2 linked regions of the Homo sapiens genome follow. The protein of the gene in region 1 binds, or shares a complex with, the protein of each later gene. Each region holds a gene or a part of one and is shown in the gene's direction. Other genes may lie near its edges.

The links.
Region 2: POLD2 (region 1) and REV3L share a complex: the UniProt entries of both Homo sapiens proteins name them as parts of the tetrameric Pol-zeta complex.

The regions. Positions count from the first base shown.
Region 1 is NC_000007.14:44,113,999-44,121,977, reverse strand, and holds the end of POLD2 (DNA polymerase delta subunit 2), read left to right. Parts: coding exon 1-144; intron 145-3,913; coding exon 3,914-4,035; intron 4,036-4,235; coding exon 4,236-4,359; intron 4,360-4,730; coding exon 4,731-4,845; intron 4,846-4,962; coding exon 4,963-5,161; intron 5,162-5,467; coding exon 5,468-5,548; intron 5,549-5,705; coding exon 5,706-5,863; intron 5,864-6,084; coding exon 6,085-6,212; intron 6,213-6,581; coding exon 6,582-6,683; intron 6,684-7,032; coding exon 7,033-7,193; 3' UTR 7,194-7,298; downstream 7,299-7,979. Other genes in the region: AEBP1 (adipocyte enhancer-binding protein 1 precursor), read right to left, coding at 7,717-7,979. UniProt on the Homo sapiens protein: Accessory component of both the DNA polymerase delta complex and the DNA polymerase zeta complex.
Region 2 is NC_000006.12:111,297,892-111,306,187, reverse strand, and holds the end of REV3L (DNA polymerase zeta catalytic subunit), read left to right. Parts: intron 1-6,031; coding exon 6,032-6,172; 3' UTR 6,173-7,155; downstream 7,156-8,296. UniProt on the Homo sapiens protein: Catalytic subunit of the DNA polymerase zeta complex, an error-prone polymerase specialized in translesion DNA synthesis (TLS). Lacks an intrinsic 3'-5' exonuclease activity and thus has no proofreading function.

The DNA.
Region 1 (7,979 bases):
GGGTGCCAGTGGCAACCTACACCAACTCCTCACAACCCTTCCGGCTAGGAGAGCGCAGCTTTAGCCGGCAGTATGCCCACATTTATGCCACCCGCCTCATCCAAATGAGACCCTTCCTGGAGAACCGGGCCCAGCAGCACTGGGGTAAGTGAGAGTTTGGGAAGGTGCTTCCCCCACAGCATCCCTGAACTTAGAAGTGTTCTGCAAGAGAATGGGAACAGTTTATCTAATTGATCCCACTTCCTGTTACCTTGGGAAAATTAACCTCTTTTTCCCTCAGTTTCTTCTTAAGATAGTAACAAGGATTAAATTAAGTAATTTGTGGGTTTGGAGTTAGTTTTAGTTCAGAGGCTGGTTGGAGATGAGGACTTAGTTCTGGCGGTGATGGCGATTACTTCACTGGCAGAGGAAAATGGTTTTCCTATCTTCAGTGCAGATTATTCAGGTATTTGCCTGTGCTGTAGCCAGAGAGCCCCTCAGTGTGGCAAGCCTGGCGCCAGGCACCAGGAGCCAAGACTGGTGAGGATGCACTCTCTGGTCTCGAGGGGACCCCCTCTGTTCACTCATGTCTGTTTGCCTCTCCTCCTGGCCCCCATATTTGCTGGCCATGAATTTTCCTGTCCCTTGGGCCCTCTGTCTTTCCTAATAAAGTGGCCTGCCCAACACAACCCTTGTTCTTTGCCCCCATTTCTTCCCTGGTGATCTCTCCTGCAGTTGGATTACTCTTGGTGGTGAAGCAGGGACCCCCATCTCCCCCTTTGAGTTTATTTGAGTTTTAGGTGCTGCTGCATTCCCCCATTCCTACCACTTACATAAGAGTGGCTTTCCAGGTAATTTTCAAATCCATCTCCTATTATATTTTTAAACTGAGGATTTAGTAGGTGAGACCAGGTCTTACTCATTTTTACTGTCCTTGGCACCAGGCAAAATGGATCTCAGCCCTAGTTGCACATTGGAATCCCCTGGGGAGCTTTGAGAAGCCCATCTCATCCCATGCCAAGCCAAGATCAATTCTCGTTATAGGCAGGCAGGAGAACCCTGGGCCTAGAAATCTAGCTAGAACCTCAAATTCATTAGGGATATGTATTAGTCCATTTTCACATTGCTATAAAAAACTACCTGAGATAGGGTAATTTATAAAGAAAAGAGGTTTAATTGACTCACAGTTCCTCATGGCTGGGGAGGCCTCAGGAAACTTAACAATCATGGCAGAAGGTGAAGGGAAAGCAAGGCTCTTTTACATGATAGCAGGAGAGAGAGAGCAAGGGGAACTGCCAACCATTTTTAAACCATCAGATCGCATGATGGCTTGATCTCACTCACCATCACAAGAACAGCATGGGGGAAATCCACCCCCACAATCCAGTCACCTCCCACCAGGTCCCTCCGTCAACACCGTGTGGATTATAATTCCAGATGAGATGTGGGTGGGGACACAGAGCCAAATCATATCAGGATGTTTTCTGTTTTGTTTACCTGAGACAAAGTGCTGTTCACCTCTCCTCTCCCACATAATCAGGGGCTCCCTCCTGCGGCTCCGGTAGCTTTTCCTCACTTTCCTTTCAGCCCTCGGGACACCTTCCTTGGCTCCTTTCAGAGCTCAGTTACTACTTGGGCCCAATGTCAATGCCACCTTCTAGATTCTTTCCGGCAGCACCTCCTCTGGTCGCACATTTCTCTTCCAGTTATTGGAGCTGTCAAAAAAGCTCCCCAGTGATGGACGATAGCGATTTCACTGTGCTCACAGACTGGTCAGGAAACCAAACAGCTGCCACAGTGAATGTGTTGATAGCAGCGGGGCAGCAGTAGCACTCGCTCACAGGCCTGGTGGTTGGTGCTGGCCCCCACCCTGAATACCTACATGTGGCTTCTCCATGTGGCCTGTGCATCCTCACTGAAGCTCAGCCTGTCTCTCCAAATTGGTCTTTCCACTCACCTGTTCCCCAAACCTGCCCAGACCTTCCTGCTGTAGGCTTTTCCCTTCACTTGGCACACTCTTTCCCTTGTCTTCCCATGGCCCCATCTAAGCCCCACTGTCAGCTGAAGTGTTATATTCTTTGAGGGGCCACCTGAAGCCACCTTGCAATGAGGGCCTCCGTTTTCTACCTCAGCTCACCATTTGTTCACAGCACTTGTCACTGTGGCGAGTTACTTGTCTATGGCCTGTTGTCGTTCTCCTGCCTAGACCCAGTGGGCTGAGTGGGGGCAAGTGTTGGCTTTTATGTCCAGTTTTGATCTTGGTGCCAGCACATTGCCTGGGTGGAAGCATGTCCTACTATCGGTTACAGGGATGTCATTCTGCCCAGTGCTCAGGGGCATACACTTGGATCCCAGTTGTGTGCCCTTGGACACATTGCTTAACCTCTCTGTGCATCAGTTGGGTGATAATATCTACTCCTGGCACATTTTCAGCGTTGGCTGAGTTACATGTACAGTGCTTAGGCCACCTGGGGGAGAGTAAGAGTGGGATACGTGAGGATGTGGAGTCTGTTGCATTTCTGTCTGCTGCTGGCATCCTTCTTGTCTTGTTTTGAGTTGCTCGCCTCTGTCTGCTCCCTAGGGCGTAGATTTGAGGAATATTCCTGGTTCTTCCCAGGCAGCAGGGGCTCAGGCTGTGCTGGAGTCAGCTAGGCTAAGGGGCTGGTCTGGCATCCGCGTTGTCCTGTCACCTCCTTGGTGTTTTCTCCAGGCCTGGATCTGTGCTGTGTGGGCACCTGTATTCCTCCCTCCTGCCCTCACTGATTCTCCATACCTTTCTTCTCGAGAGTGCCAAGCCCCTCCCATGTGTTCTTGTTCATACCTAGGATCCCGGGAAGGGGCTGGGGAAGACGGTGCCCAGGTGCCCTGGGTAAACAAAGCCACCTGACTCCACGGGAATGGAATGGGTGGAGGGGATCTGAGGTCTGCATTTTGAGTATCTCTGGTCTCAGAGGATGAAGCATTTGGTGGGGGTTGGGGGTGGGGGGTAGGGTGGAAGAATCTAAAGTCTTAAAAGAAAATGGCAGTTATTTGTGGGACAGGGCTGTGTTGAGACTTGGCATGCTTCTTTTTAAGAGTCAGTGTTGTAATTTAGGTATAAGTGAAGCAGTACTTTGTATTAGTTTCCTGTAGGCGCTGTAACAAAGCACCACAAACTGGTTGACTTAAAACAACAGACATGGCCGGGCACGGTGGCTCACGACTGTAATCCCAGCACTTTGGGAGGCCGAGGCGGGCAGATCACAAGGTCAAGAGATTGAGACCATCCTGGCTAACACGGTGAAACCCTGTCTCTACTAAAAATACAAAAAAAAAAAAATTAGCTGGGCGTGGTGGCACACGCCTGTAGTCCCAGCTACTCGGGAGGCTGAGGCAGGAGAATGGCGTGAACCCGGGAGGCGGAGCTTGCAGTGAGCTGAGATCGCGCCACTGCACTCCAGCCTGGATGACAGCGAGACTCCGCCTCAAAACAAAAACAAAAACAGAAACAACAATAACAGAAAAACACAGACATTTACTCTCTGGCAGTTCTGGAGGCCAGAAGTTGAAATCCAGATGTCAGCAGGATTGGCTCCTTCTGAAGGCCCGAGGGGAGGGTCCTTCCTGGCCTCCTCCCTGGTGTTCCTGGGCTTGTGGCCGCATCACTCCGCTCTGCCCGTCTTCACACTCCCTCTTGTCTGTGTGTCTGTCTCTCTGTTCTCATGAGGACACTTGGCATCCAGGGCCCAACCACACCCAGAGTCCCTGGTCTCCTGTGGCTGACTCACTTTTTACTGTCACCGTGAAGTCCAGGGGGTCCTTGTACTTGATGTTCTCTCCTGGCAAGGCCAGGGCCCTGTGATTGGCCTCTCATGGAGTGCTGGGCAGGGCCTCCATGGCCTCTGTCGGGCGGGGGGGCTACTTCATCTCTGAGTCTGTACCCCTCGTGTCCCAGGCAGTGGAGTGGGAGTGAAGAAGCTGTGTGAACTGCAGCCTGAGGAGAAGTGCTGTGTGGTGGGCACTCTGTTCAAGGCCATGCCGCTGCAGCCCTCCATCCTGCGGGAGGTCAGCGAGGAGGTGAGGCAGGGTGCTACACAGTGGGGCCGCCAGGCAGACCTGGCCTCCCACTAGAACACCTCCCTGGAGGTGGGGTTGTGGGGAAGCAGGTTCAGAGACAATGGACTCCAGAGGGGTGGGGGCTGCGGTGCCAGCTCACTAACACCAGAGCTTTGGTGGGCTCTGGCCCCAAGATTATACCTCCTGTCTCTGCATTCCAGCACAACCTGCTCCCCCAGCCTCCTCGGAGTAAATACATACACCCAGATGACGAGCTGGTCTTGGAAGATGAACTGCAGCGTATCAAACTAAAAGGCACCATTGACGTGTCAAAGCTGGTTACGGGTAGGGAGCCCAATGAGAGGATGTGGGTGATGCAGGTGAAGAGCCCAGCGGTGGTGTGTTAGGGATGGTGTGAGTGGGGAGCCTGGGGGGAGTGGGGGGGTGTGGCCTGGGCACACGTGTGTTCTTGAGGAGGTAGGTGAGGCTCCAGGCGGTCGGAGGCCATCAGATTGGGTGAGACCTGGCTGGGAGATGGGTCTCCCCACCTCCATCCAAGGGCAGTGACTCCAGGAAGCAGGCATGCATCCTGGAGTCCTAGGTGAGAATTCACCAATGTGGTTGTGGAGAACTGGCTTGTTTTGCCCGTTGGGGTGACTGGAAGGAGTGGTAGCACCTGGGGCTCCCTGCTCAGGCCTGATGCCACTGCTCCCCAGGGACTGTCCTGGCTGTGTTTGGCTCCGTGAGAGACGACGGGAAGTTTCTGGTGGAGGACTATTGCTTTGCTGACCTTGCTCCCCAGAAGCCCGCACCCCCACTTGACACAGATAGGTGAGCAGCAGTTCTCGGGAGCTGGAACCAGCTCATGGTCAGTGGAATCTTTGAGTTGCACCTAGGAGGGGCTGCCTCCCTTCTCGGCACCCTGGAGGACCCCACCTTCTCCCGCAGGTTTGTGCTACTGGTGTCCGGCCTGGGCCTGGGTGGCGGTGGAGGCGAGAGCCTGCTGGGCACCCAGCTGCTGGTGGATGTGGTGACGGGGCAGCTTGGGGACGAAGGGGAGCAGTGCAGCGCCGCCCACGTCTCCCGGGTTATCCTCGCTGGCAACCTCCTCAGCCACAGCACCCAGAGCAGGGATTCTATCAATAAGGTATGGAGCCCACCTGGCTGCATTCAGCCCCAGCCCAGGAGCCTGCAAGCCTGTAAGACCCTCCTTCCCCAGGGCGAGTAGGGTACCCTGTGAGGTCTCGCAGGTCGGTGGGAAGCGCCCTGCAGTGACTCTGGGGCCTCCTGCAATGGGGCTCCTCATGCCCAGGCCCTCGCTGAGGATGGTGGGAGGCTTGAAGGGAGTGAGGGTCTATGGGACAACAACTGCATCTTCCAGCTGGTGGGGCTCTACTCTCCTCTGAGCCTGGGACTCGCCTGGGCCTGATGGCCTTCTGGGCTTCTATTCCAGGCCAAATACCTCACCAAGAAAACCCAGGCAGCCAGCGTGGAGGCTGTTAAGATGCTGGATGAGATCCTCCTGCAGCTGAGCGTGAGCGAGCTGGGGGCTGGAGGGGTGATGGGGATTGCAGTCTTCAAAGCTGCCACTGGGCAACAGAAGGCAGGCAGGAGGGCAGGGGGAGTGGCCGGAGTTGGTGTAGGGGGCTCCTTCGGGGCCCTGTGAGCTCTCCCTGCCCTGTGCCTTCCAGGCCTCAGTGCCCGTGGACGTGATGCCAGGCGAGTTTGATCCCACCAATTACACGCTCCCCCAGCAGCCCCTCCACCCCTGCATGTTCCCGCTGGCCACTGCCTACTCCACGCTCCAGCTGGTCACCAACCCCTACCAGGCCACCATTGATGGAGTCAGGTAGCTGGCACAGCCACACTTCAGTCTGACCCAGCCTTTTGCCTCAGGAGGCACAAAGAAGGGAGGGGAGGGAGGGCCCAGGAAGGTGGCAGGGCTGCAGAGGCCCACCTAGCATCTGTTCCTTCTCTCTGGGGCATCCCCACAAGAGCGCCAGATGAGCTCTGGGCTGACCACTATGGGTGGCACCCAAAGCCAAGAGTCAGCTGAGCTTTGCCTTGCAGATTTTTGGGGACATCAGGACAGAACGTGAGTGACATTTTCCGATACAGCAGCATGGAGGATCACTTGGAGATCCTGGAGTGGACCCTGCGGGTCCGTCACATCAGCCCCACAGCCCCTGACACTCTAGGTAACAGGCTCAGCCATACAGGGTGGGAGCAGAGGGCCAGGAGGCCTGGCAGGACCCTGAAGTGCACAGGGTCCCCCTGTGGGTTTGCACTTGCCAGCATTGCTGAGAACTGTCTGAGGAGAAGTTCAGAGGCTTGGCACCTGCTCTGGAAGCTACTCTGGAATCTTAATTCTAAGGCCAATGGCTGCCCACCCCAACGGGCAGCAACAGCAGGGCCAAGGTCTTGTGACAATGTCTGGAGGTGCCCCTATTGTCACACTGGGGGTCTCCTACTGGCCTGCAATGGGAGGAGGGGCTGCAGCCCCACATCCTGTGCAGAGTGCTAGTGCTGAGGCGGAACCCTCCTCAGAGCTGCCCCTTCTCCTCCAGGTTGTTACCCCTTCTACAAAACTGACCCGTTCATCTTCCCAGAGTGCCCGCATGTCTACTTTTGTGGCAACACCCCCAGCTTTGGCTCCAAAATCATCCGAGGTAATTTTTGTCTTCTGGGGGCCCAGGCTGATTTGCTGATTTGCTCTCACCTGGGGACAAGGTTCACAGAGAAGAAAACCTGCATTGTGGAGTCCCCCTGGCCCTTGTGGGATGGACAGCTGAGGTCTTCTGCACAGCTGCCATTTCACTGTGGGAGCCAAGCTGCCTCGCCAGCTGGGCAGGGACTGGAACGGCTCCCAGCCTGTGTGCCTCTCAAGGCTAATCTCTGGTCTCCTATTGTCACTGCCCCACTGTGTGCCAATGGGGACTCCTGTTTATTTCTGGCAGCTTCTCTTTGAGGCAGGACTTACTTGGAACCTACAGTGGGTCCTATGTGACTTCTTTGCAGGTCCTGAGGACCAGACAGTGCTGTTGGTGACTGTCCCTGACTTCAGTGCCACGCAGACCGCCTGCCTTGTGAACCTGCGCAGCCTGGCCTGCCAGCCCATCAGCTTCTCGGGCTTCGGGGCAGAGGACGATGACCTGGGAGGCCTGGGGCTGGGCCCCTGACTCAAAAAAGTGGTTTTGACCAGAGAGGCCCAGATGGAGGCTGTTCATTCCCTGCAGTGTCGGCATTGTAAATAAAGCCTGAGCACTTGCTGATGCGAGCCTTGAGCCCTGGGCACTCTGGCTATGGGACTCCTGCAGGGGTGCCCACAGTGACCATAGCCCATGCACCCACCAGCCGGTCTCCCTCCTCCCCATCCCTGACACCTCAGAATGTGAGCAGTCCGTGCCATGAGCTTGTTTTATTGGAGTGACCTTGGCTCCCTCCCTCTGCCCCTACTCCAACACTGCAGCAACCCCATCTCTTACGAGACTGGCAGGTGGAGCAGGAGCCTCTACACAGCCTCTGGCTCTTAGGTCCCAGTCATGTTTGCACCCCCTCAAAGGGGCAGGACCAGCCCTTCCTTTCAGTGTCCATACCAGGGGCCTTCCATGTGCTGATGGGTGATGTGACTGTGGTCAGCAGGCTTGGGAAGTGCTGCTGCTGTAGCTTGAGTTGGGCTGGGGTCTTGGTAGGACGCTGATCTCAGAAGTCCCCAAAGTTCACTGTGTAGGTCTCTACTGTTGTGAAGGGGAATGCCTGGCCAGTGGCTATCTCCTCCTCTTTCTCCTCCTCCTCCTCTTCCTCAAACTCGGGTTCCAGCTGGGTCTCAAACTCAGGCTCCAACTGGGTCTCAAACTCGGGCTCCACCTTGGTCCCAAACTCGGGCTCCACCTCGGTCCCAAACTCTGTCACCACCTCTGTGTAGGTCTCAGTCTCCGACTCCTCCCAGCCAGCGGTGGTTGGCG
Region 2 (8,296 bases), on another chromosome or scaffold:
GTAGGCTCCTGCCATAATCTCCTCTGCTTTACTGTGATTTGGGGTTTGTCTGTCTTCCTCACTAAATAGCAAATGAACCAGTGAGGACAGAGGCCCAGTTCTTTGACTGTCAAGTCAGTTATGCCTAGCATATAGCCAAGCCCATGGGGCTGGTCTGTAAATATTTATTGAATAAATGAACAAGTTCCTGGTTAATGCATGATTAAAGAAGGAATATATCACTGGAGTTATTACCAACCAACTTTCAGCCATTTTTTACCAGTTTTGTGGTTCTAGTCAGTACAACCACTGAAGTCACTGGGTGCTCCCAGCTTCTATTTATTTAATAGACTTCTGTCCTGATGGCAGCAGCCAACTCTCATAGAAAATTCCCTTGCTGGATCCTAGTATGACGCCTAAATGAGAGCAGGACCTCCAGGGCTCTGCTAAGGTCAGGCTGTTAAATGGTCCTTTCCTAGACTTTCTTATGTTTTTTCTGCACTCAATGACAAACACATCACTACTTGGTGCCATCAATTTACCCAGAGCCCATCCTCCTTCAACATTAGGTGTTCATTCTTTTTTTCTTTTTATTTATTTATTTTTATTTTATTTTATTTTTGAGGTAGGGTCTCACTTTGTCACCCAGACTGAAATGCAGTGGCATGATTACAGCTCATTGCAGCCTCAACCTCCTGGGCTCAAGTGATCCTCTCAGCTCAGCCTCCCATGTAGCTGGGACTACAGGCATATCCCACCATGTTTTACTAATTATTTTTTTTTAGACATCGGGTCTCACTATGTTGCCCAGGCTGGTCTCAAACTGTTGGACTCAAGCAATCCTCCCACTTCAGCTGCCTAAGGGCTGGGATTACAGGCATGAACCATGATGCCCGGCCATCTTATTTCTTATAAAAATACAGTTTAAAAGAAAGTGATGCCACAGCCATAAAAAAAGAATAAAATCGGCCGGGCGTGGTGGCTCATGCCTACAAATCCCAGCACTTTCGGAGGCCGAGGCGGGCGGATCACGTGAGGTCGGGAGTTCGAGACCAGCCTGACCAATATGGAGAAATTCCATCTCTACTAAAAATACAAAATTAGCCAGGCGTGGTGGCACATGCCTGTAATCCCAGCTACTCAGGAGGCTGAGGCAGGAGAATCGCTTGAACCTGGGAGGCAGAGGTTGCAGTGAGCTGAGATTGCAGCATTGCACTCCAGCCTGGGGAACAAGAGCGAAACTCTGTCTCAAAAAAAAAAAAAAAAGAACAAAGAACAAAATCATGTCCTTTGTAACAACATGGATGCAGCTGGGGCTATTATCCTAAGCAAATTAACGCAGAAACAGAAAACCAAATACTGCATGTTCTCACATATAATGAACATTGGGTACTCATGGACATAAAGATGGGAATGATGAACACTAGGGATTCCAAAAGGGGGGTGAGGAGAGGAAAAGTTGAAAAACCACCTGTCAGATACTACATTTACTGCATGGGCAACAGGATCATTAGAAGCTCAAACCTCAACATCATACAGTATACCCATGTAACAAACCTACATGTATACCCTTGGATCGAAAAAAAAAAAAAAAAGAAAAAGCGATGCTATTTATAAATAATGATGGTTTGTCATCTTTCAAGAGCTATTTTAATTTGAGGTGTTTTTCAAGAACGTTCAAATGAATGTCTCCCATACACTAATTTGTAGAAATTTTTAATGAAGCAGAAATTACTAGAGATGTAATGAGAATTAGAAACACATCCAAACAGGAGATTTTACATCATTCTCAATCCAAGACCAATCAAGTGATCAGAAATAAGTGAAATTATGGAAATTGTAAACATTATAAGTCAGACCTTGTGATTATATATCAAACTCTGTAACCCAGTACCAAAAAATGTACTTCTTAAGTGTTTCTAGAATGTTTTAAATGTCTCCCATGCACTAATTTGTAGAAATTTTTAATGAAGCAGAAATTACTAGAGATGTAATGAGAATTAGAAACACATCCAAACAGGAGATTTTACATCATTCTCAATCCAAGACCAATCAAGTGATCAGAAATAAGTGAAATTATGGAAATTGTAAACATTATAAGTCAGACCTTGTGATTATATATCAAACTCTGTAACCCAGTACCAAAAAATATACTTCTTAAGTGTTTCTAGAATGTTTTAAAAATATCTGGCCAGGTGTGGTGACTCATGCCTGTAATCCCAACACTTTGGGAGGCCAAGGCAGGTAGATCACCTGGGGTCAGGAGTTTGAAACGTTTGGCCAACATGGAGAAACCCCAGCTCTACTAAAAAATACAAAAATTAGCCAGGCATGGTGGCATGAGCCTTGTACTCCCAACTACTCAGGAGGCTGAGGCAGGAAAATCACTTGAACCCAGGAGGCAGAGGCTGCAGTGAGCCGAGATCACACCACTGAACTCCAGCCTGGGTGACAGAGCAAGACTCCATCTTAAAAAAAAAAAAAAAAAAAAAAAAAAAAAAAAAAAAGTCATAGTCTGTTAAAAAAAAAAAAAAAAAGCCTCGGCTGGGGATCATGGCTCACGCCTATAATCCCAGCACTTTGGGAGGCTGAGGCAGGAGGATCACTTGAGGGCAGGAGTTTGAGACCAGCCTGGCCAACATGGCAAAACCCCATCTCTACTAAAAATACAAAAATTAGCAGGGTATGGTGGCAGGCACCTATAATCCCAGCTACTTGGGAGGCTGAGGTAGGACAATCGCTTGAGCCAGGGAGGCAGAGGTTACAGTGAGCTGAGATTGTGCCACTGCACTCCAGCCTGGGCAACAGAGTGAGACTCCATTTCAAAAATAATAAATTAAAAATAAAATAATAAAAATTAAAATTTAAAATTAGCCAGGCATGGTGGCGGGCACCCGCAATCCCAGCTACTAAGGAGGCTGAGGCAGGAGAATCACTTGAACCTAGGAGGCAGAGGTTGCAGTGAACTGAGATCATGCCACTGCACTCCAGCCTGGGCAACAGAATGAGACGCTCTCTCTCATCTCAAAAAAAAAAAAAAAAAGAAAGAAAAGAAAGCCTCAGTACATTTCAAAAAGTAGAAATATTACAAATGAATGTAATACAATGCTATAAAATGGTAATTAATTACAAACTAAAAAAAAAAGTGATCCTTCCACTTGTAAATTCTGTTAAACAAAATGAAAACACTGCAAATCAGATTCTAGATGGCAGACCTCAGAGAAAAATTCATCACCTTAACACTGTTAATCATAAACATGAAAGAATGAAAGCAAATGAAGCAAGCATCTGACTGAAAAATTTTTTTTGAGACGGAGTCTCACTGTTGCCCAGGCTGGAGTGTAGTTGGTGCAATCTTGGCTCACTGCAACCTCTGCCTTCCAGGTTCAAGCAATTCTCCTGCCTCAGCCTCCCGAGTAGCTGGGATTACAGGCATGCACCACCACGCCCAGCTAATTTTCGTATTTTTAGTGGAGACAGTTTCACCATGTTGGCCAGGTGGTCTCAAACTCCTGACCTCAGGTGATCCACCTGCCTCTGCCTCCCAGAGTACTAGGATTACAGGCATGAGCCACTGTGCCCAGCCTTGACTAAATTTTTTTTGAACAAGAAAGCCAAAGGATAGTAAAAAGAATAAAGATTAAAGCAGATATTTTTTAAGTGCCTGCCTCCCTATGTGCTACAAAGTAGATGTCCGGGTTGGGGCACTAAAGTTTTAAATGTAAGCCTGAATCAAGCTATAATGCTCAGGGTTTAAACCAGTAAAGGATCTTGAAACTAAACACTGAGTTAAATTTAGTGAGTCAAGTAATTCCATCCTGGCTTATTTATCAGACAAGCACAGAAAGAGCTTAAATATTTATCAGTTTGTCCTGGCACCTGAATGTAACTGCAATTCATAGAGCTGTAATACAGAAATTCTATATTTGGGAATAGATTTGAGTCTCTTGGCAGAGATCTAATTAGCAAAGGCTTCATCATAGAACAGCATACTCAGTCTTCATGGAGCATACTGAAGCACATGTTTGTAAGCAGTCTGCTTGTGACAATATCATAATATTGGATACAGTAACCAGTCTACTTAGAAAAAGTGTGCCCTTCGGTTAACTGGAAGATAACTGGGGCAAAGAACAAAACTTCACTGGCCTGTGAGCCATCTCTGAAACTGAAACCCTTTGATAAATATAGATCAAAGAATTCACTAGAGCGTATTTGATTTCTCTTAAAAGACAATCCAGAGTAGTTGTTGCCATTTGGTATGGCTTTTTTAAAATCACTTGTCTACACTATTCAGGTGAAAGTCGGCCTGCATTTTCTTAACCTTTGGAGTCTTCATTGGCATCCTTTTTAATTTTTTTATGTTCTTCATGTTTTATAACCTTTTTTTTAACTATATATGCAACTTGAGACTTTAAAGTATTTTTAAAAATTGATCATTGTGTAAAACATTATAGTGCTTCTCTTTTTAAAAATTGCCTTATGATTTATTATTTTCCTTAAGATCAGATCTTATTATACATCCAAATCATCTGGGAAGCCTTAAGAAGTACAGATTCTTAGGCTTTCATGCCTGGAGATTCTGACTCATTATGGGTCTGGGATGGGGCACTTGTTTATTTTTAAGCTCATTGTTAGCCAGGGTTAAGAACCACTGGTCTGCACCACTACTTTCAAATTCACATTATTTGATTTTTTTTTTTTTTGAAATTTTACAGCTGGGTCTCTGGGGGTGACATCACATGTTGGCAGGTTCCTTGATGCCCCTTGAGCCACAAAACCAGCAAGTTTTTATTAGGGGTTTCAAAAGGGGAGGGGTGTACGAATAGGGAGTGGGTCACATGCTTCAAAGGCAGTAAAATATCACAACAGCAAAGAGGCAGAGTGAGATCACAAGGCCAGGGTGAAACTAGAATTACTGATGAAGGTCCATGTCGTGCTGGGCACACATTGTCATTGATAAACATCTTAACAGGAAACAGGGTTCGTGATCAGACAACCAGTCTGACTAGAATTCGCCAGGCTGGAATTTCCTAATCCTAGCAAGCCTGGGGGTGCTGCAGGAGGCCAGGGCATATTTCATCCCGTGTCTACAACTGCATAAGACAGACACTCCCAGAGTGGCCATTTTAGAGACCTACCCCTGAGAATGCATTCGTTTTCCCGGGGTTATTCCTTGCTGAGAAAAGAATTCAGCGATATTTCTCCTATTCGCTTTCTGAAAGAAGAGAAATATGACTCTGTTCTGCCAGGCCCTGCAGGCAGTCAGATTTTATGGTTATCTCCCTTATTCCCTGCAAATCGCTGTTATCCTGTTCTTTTCAAGGTGCTCAGATTTCATATTGTTCAAACACACATGCTTTACAAACAATTTGTGCAGATAACGCAATCACCACAGGGTCCTGAGGCGATATACATCCTCAGCTTACGGAGATGACGGAATTAAAAGATTAAAGACAGGCATAGGAAATTATAAGAGTATTGATTGGGGAAGTGATAAATGTTCATGAAATCTTCACAATTCATGTTCAGAGATTGCAGTAAAGACAGGCATAAGAAATTATGAAAGTATTAATTTGGGGAACTAACAAATGTCCATGAAATCTTCACAATTTATGTTTTTCTGCTGTGGCTTCAGCAGGTTGCTTTTCTCTTCTGGAATACGAAAAAGAGTAACTTTTTTATGATTGGCATATGAGAATATAGTCTAAGTACTTTGAAAACGTGTTTATAGTTCATGTAAGAGACATTCTTTGGTAATTGGGTAGCTTATGTAGATTTTAATAGGATTCCATTGTAAATGAAAGTTAATCTTAGGAATTAAATGAATCCTTAGGGAAATTTGTACTCTATCTTTACAAAATAATATCCTTTAGAAATGTCTCAACATAGGGTAGTCTAGGCTTCCAAGAGATTAAAATTAATGAAAGTTTCTGTAATGTATGTCTGCCAGTAATCTGTGGTAGTCTAGAAAGTAGGGATTATAAAAATTTGTTGTTTGCATACACGCATAAAAACTTTCCTATTATTTTTTGTATTTCTCTTATGCTTTCAGATATGCAAGAACTGTACAGGTTGCTTTGATCGACACATCCCATGTGTTTCTCTGAACTGCCCAGTACTTTTCAAACTCTCCCGAGTAAATAGAGAATTGTCCAAGGCACCATATCTCCGGCAGTTATTAGACCAGTTTTAAATTGTCAATATCACAGTATTACAGGTGCTATTTTTTTCAGTGCTTACCACTAAACTGTTGTGCATGGTGCTTTTTAACTTTCATCGAGTCAAGGATGTTCACTGTCTGTTATCTGAAGACTATGAAGACTTCTATGCTAACCGAATTAAAATGTACTTGTTGATCTCTGAATAGCTCACTTCTTACAATGTACAAATTCCTCATTCTGTCACCTTTTAAACATTGTTTTATAATGCAGGTGTTGGATTTGCTCCAGTATGTGTACCATCTTGTAAATTCATTTGAGTAGATCATGTTTACTTCCCAGTGGAAGGAGCACTGAAAACCTCTTAAAGAAAAAGCATTTGTGTGTTTTCCTTGAACTGTCTGTATCAAGACGTGTTACTTCGAGATATCCATTCACTTTATAATTTTGACTGCAAAATATTTTGTAAATACACTTTTTTACTTTTCAAACGAGCAAAATAATGTGCAATGATTTTTATACAAATGATTTTCAAGTTGTTTGGTATATTTCCTCTAGGTTTTGCTTGACTCAAAGTAGATCGTTATTTTGATCAAACTGTGCAAACAGTAGTACCACGTGTAGCATTTTGAAACATTATTTTTTTTTAAAAAATGCTGTCTTGCTTTAGCTATTAATGGGGCATTGTGAGGAACTGTGCAAAGACATTTTTGTTACAAACCTGTGGGCCTGTTGCAATACTTTAAAAATAAAAAATTTTATTCCATTTGCTTGTTTTGTATAGACATTTCTATTGCTTCTAAATATACTTAAAATATTTTCTTTCCTTATGTACTGTACAGTTAATCTTATTTGCCATCATCTTGAACACAAAATGTGTATTTAGAATATTTGTATAACTGTGTAAAATAAAAAAGGAATTATGTGGTCAGTGCATTGTTTTTTAAACTGGAAATCATTTTGTTTTAAAAGTTAATAATGGAAACCATATTAAAATTGAATAAAATATAAAATAATATAGCAGTGTGACTTCATCTTTTTTATAAGCCTGTATTGGTTACATCTTTCTTACCCTACCCTTTTCTGAGTTTTAATGAAGTAAATTATTTAACATATTTTTATATCCTGTTTGATATTGCAATTTCCTTACCAAAACTTCTTCAGGGTTAAAACAAAAAAAAAAATAAAAAAAGGGCAGCAAAAATGGGAAAATTTAATTTAGCACTCATCCTTTTAGAGAGTTTTAAGAGTGTACTTGTTTGTTAGTAGATCTTCAGTGTTCATTTTCATTTTGATATAATTATTAATTAAATTACAGAGAAAGCAAAAACTACATTACTTCTTAAAAACTTAAATGCCAATTTTTATATGCCTATTTTTTTCAATAGAAAAAAGTTAGTTATTATTTTAACAGAAATAACTCACCTGGTTATTTAACAGAAATAGGTCTTCCATTGCCAGAATATGTACTTGCAAATGTTGGGAGGATTCTTTTTCTGAAAATTACATGGTAAATATGGAACCAAAGAGATACATAGCCTGTGTCTGAACATAATTTATTTCAAGTCTTGTTAAGACATAATGAATTTCCACTTCTGGGGATTTTTTTTTGTTTGGGAGGCTGGGGCTAGTCCTCAGCATTGGGGTTTTTTCCCCCTTTTATATGTGTAGATTGATGAAATTCTGTTACTTACAAGTTCTGTGCTGTCAGGACTTCCACACACATCATCTCTTTCTCATCATAGTAACTTGACACAATATTTTCAACACAATAACCATTTTTAACCTGATTGATTGATTATAATTGGATACAGCCATATTAACAAATGGTTATTCAACATGAATGCCTAAAACTAGCTCACACTCAGCCTGTCTCTGGTTCTGTTTTCTGCAGGAAAGCTCCTCCTTTGTAACTGTCCTCAGAGTCTGTAGCTTAACTGCCTTTTAGTGAGGTCCATTTGCTGTTTCACTAACTCATCGGGGAGGGTGCTGAAATTTGGAACTATTTTACCAAGAAATTTTCTTGTAAGGATCTTCCTGTGTTCCATAATTTTCCCTCCTTTTTAGATGATTGGCTATTAATAAAGTTTTGTCTCTCAGATCACAGAAAAAAAAAATTTAAGTATGGCTGAAGAAACAGTTTCATTCTTTAGGATGTT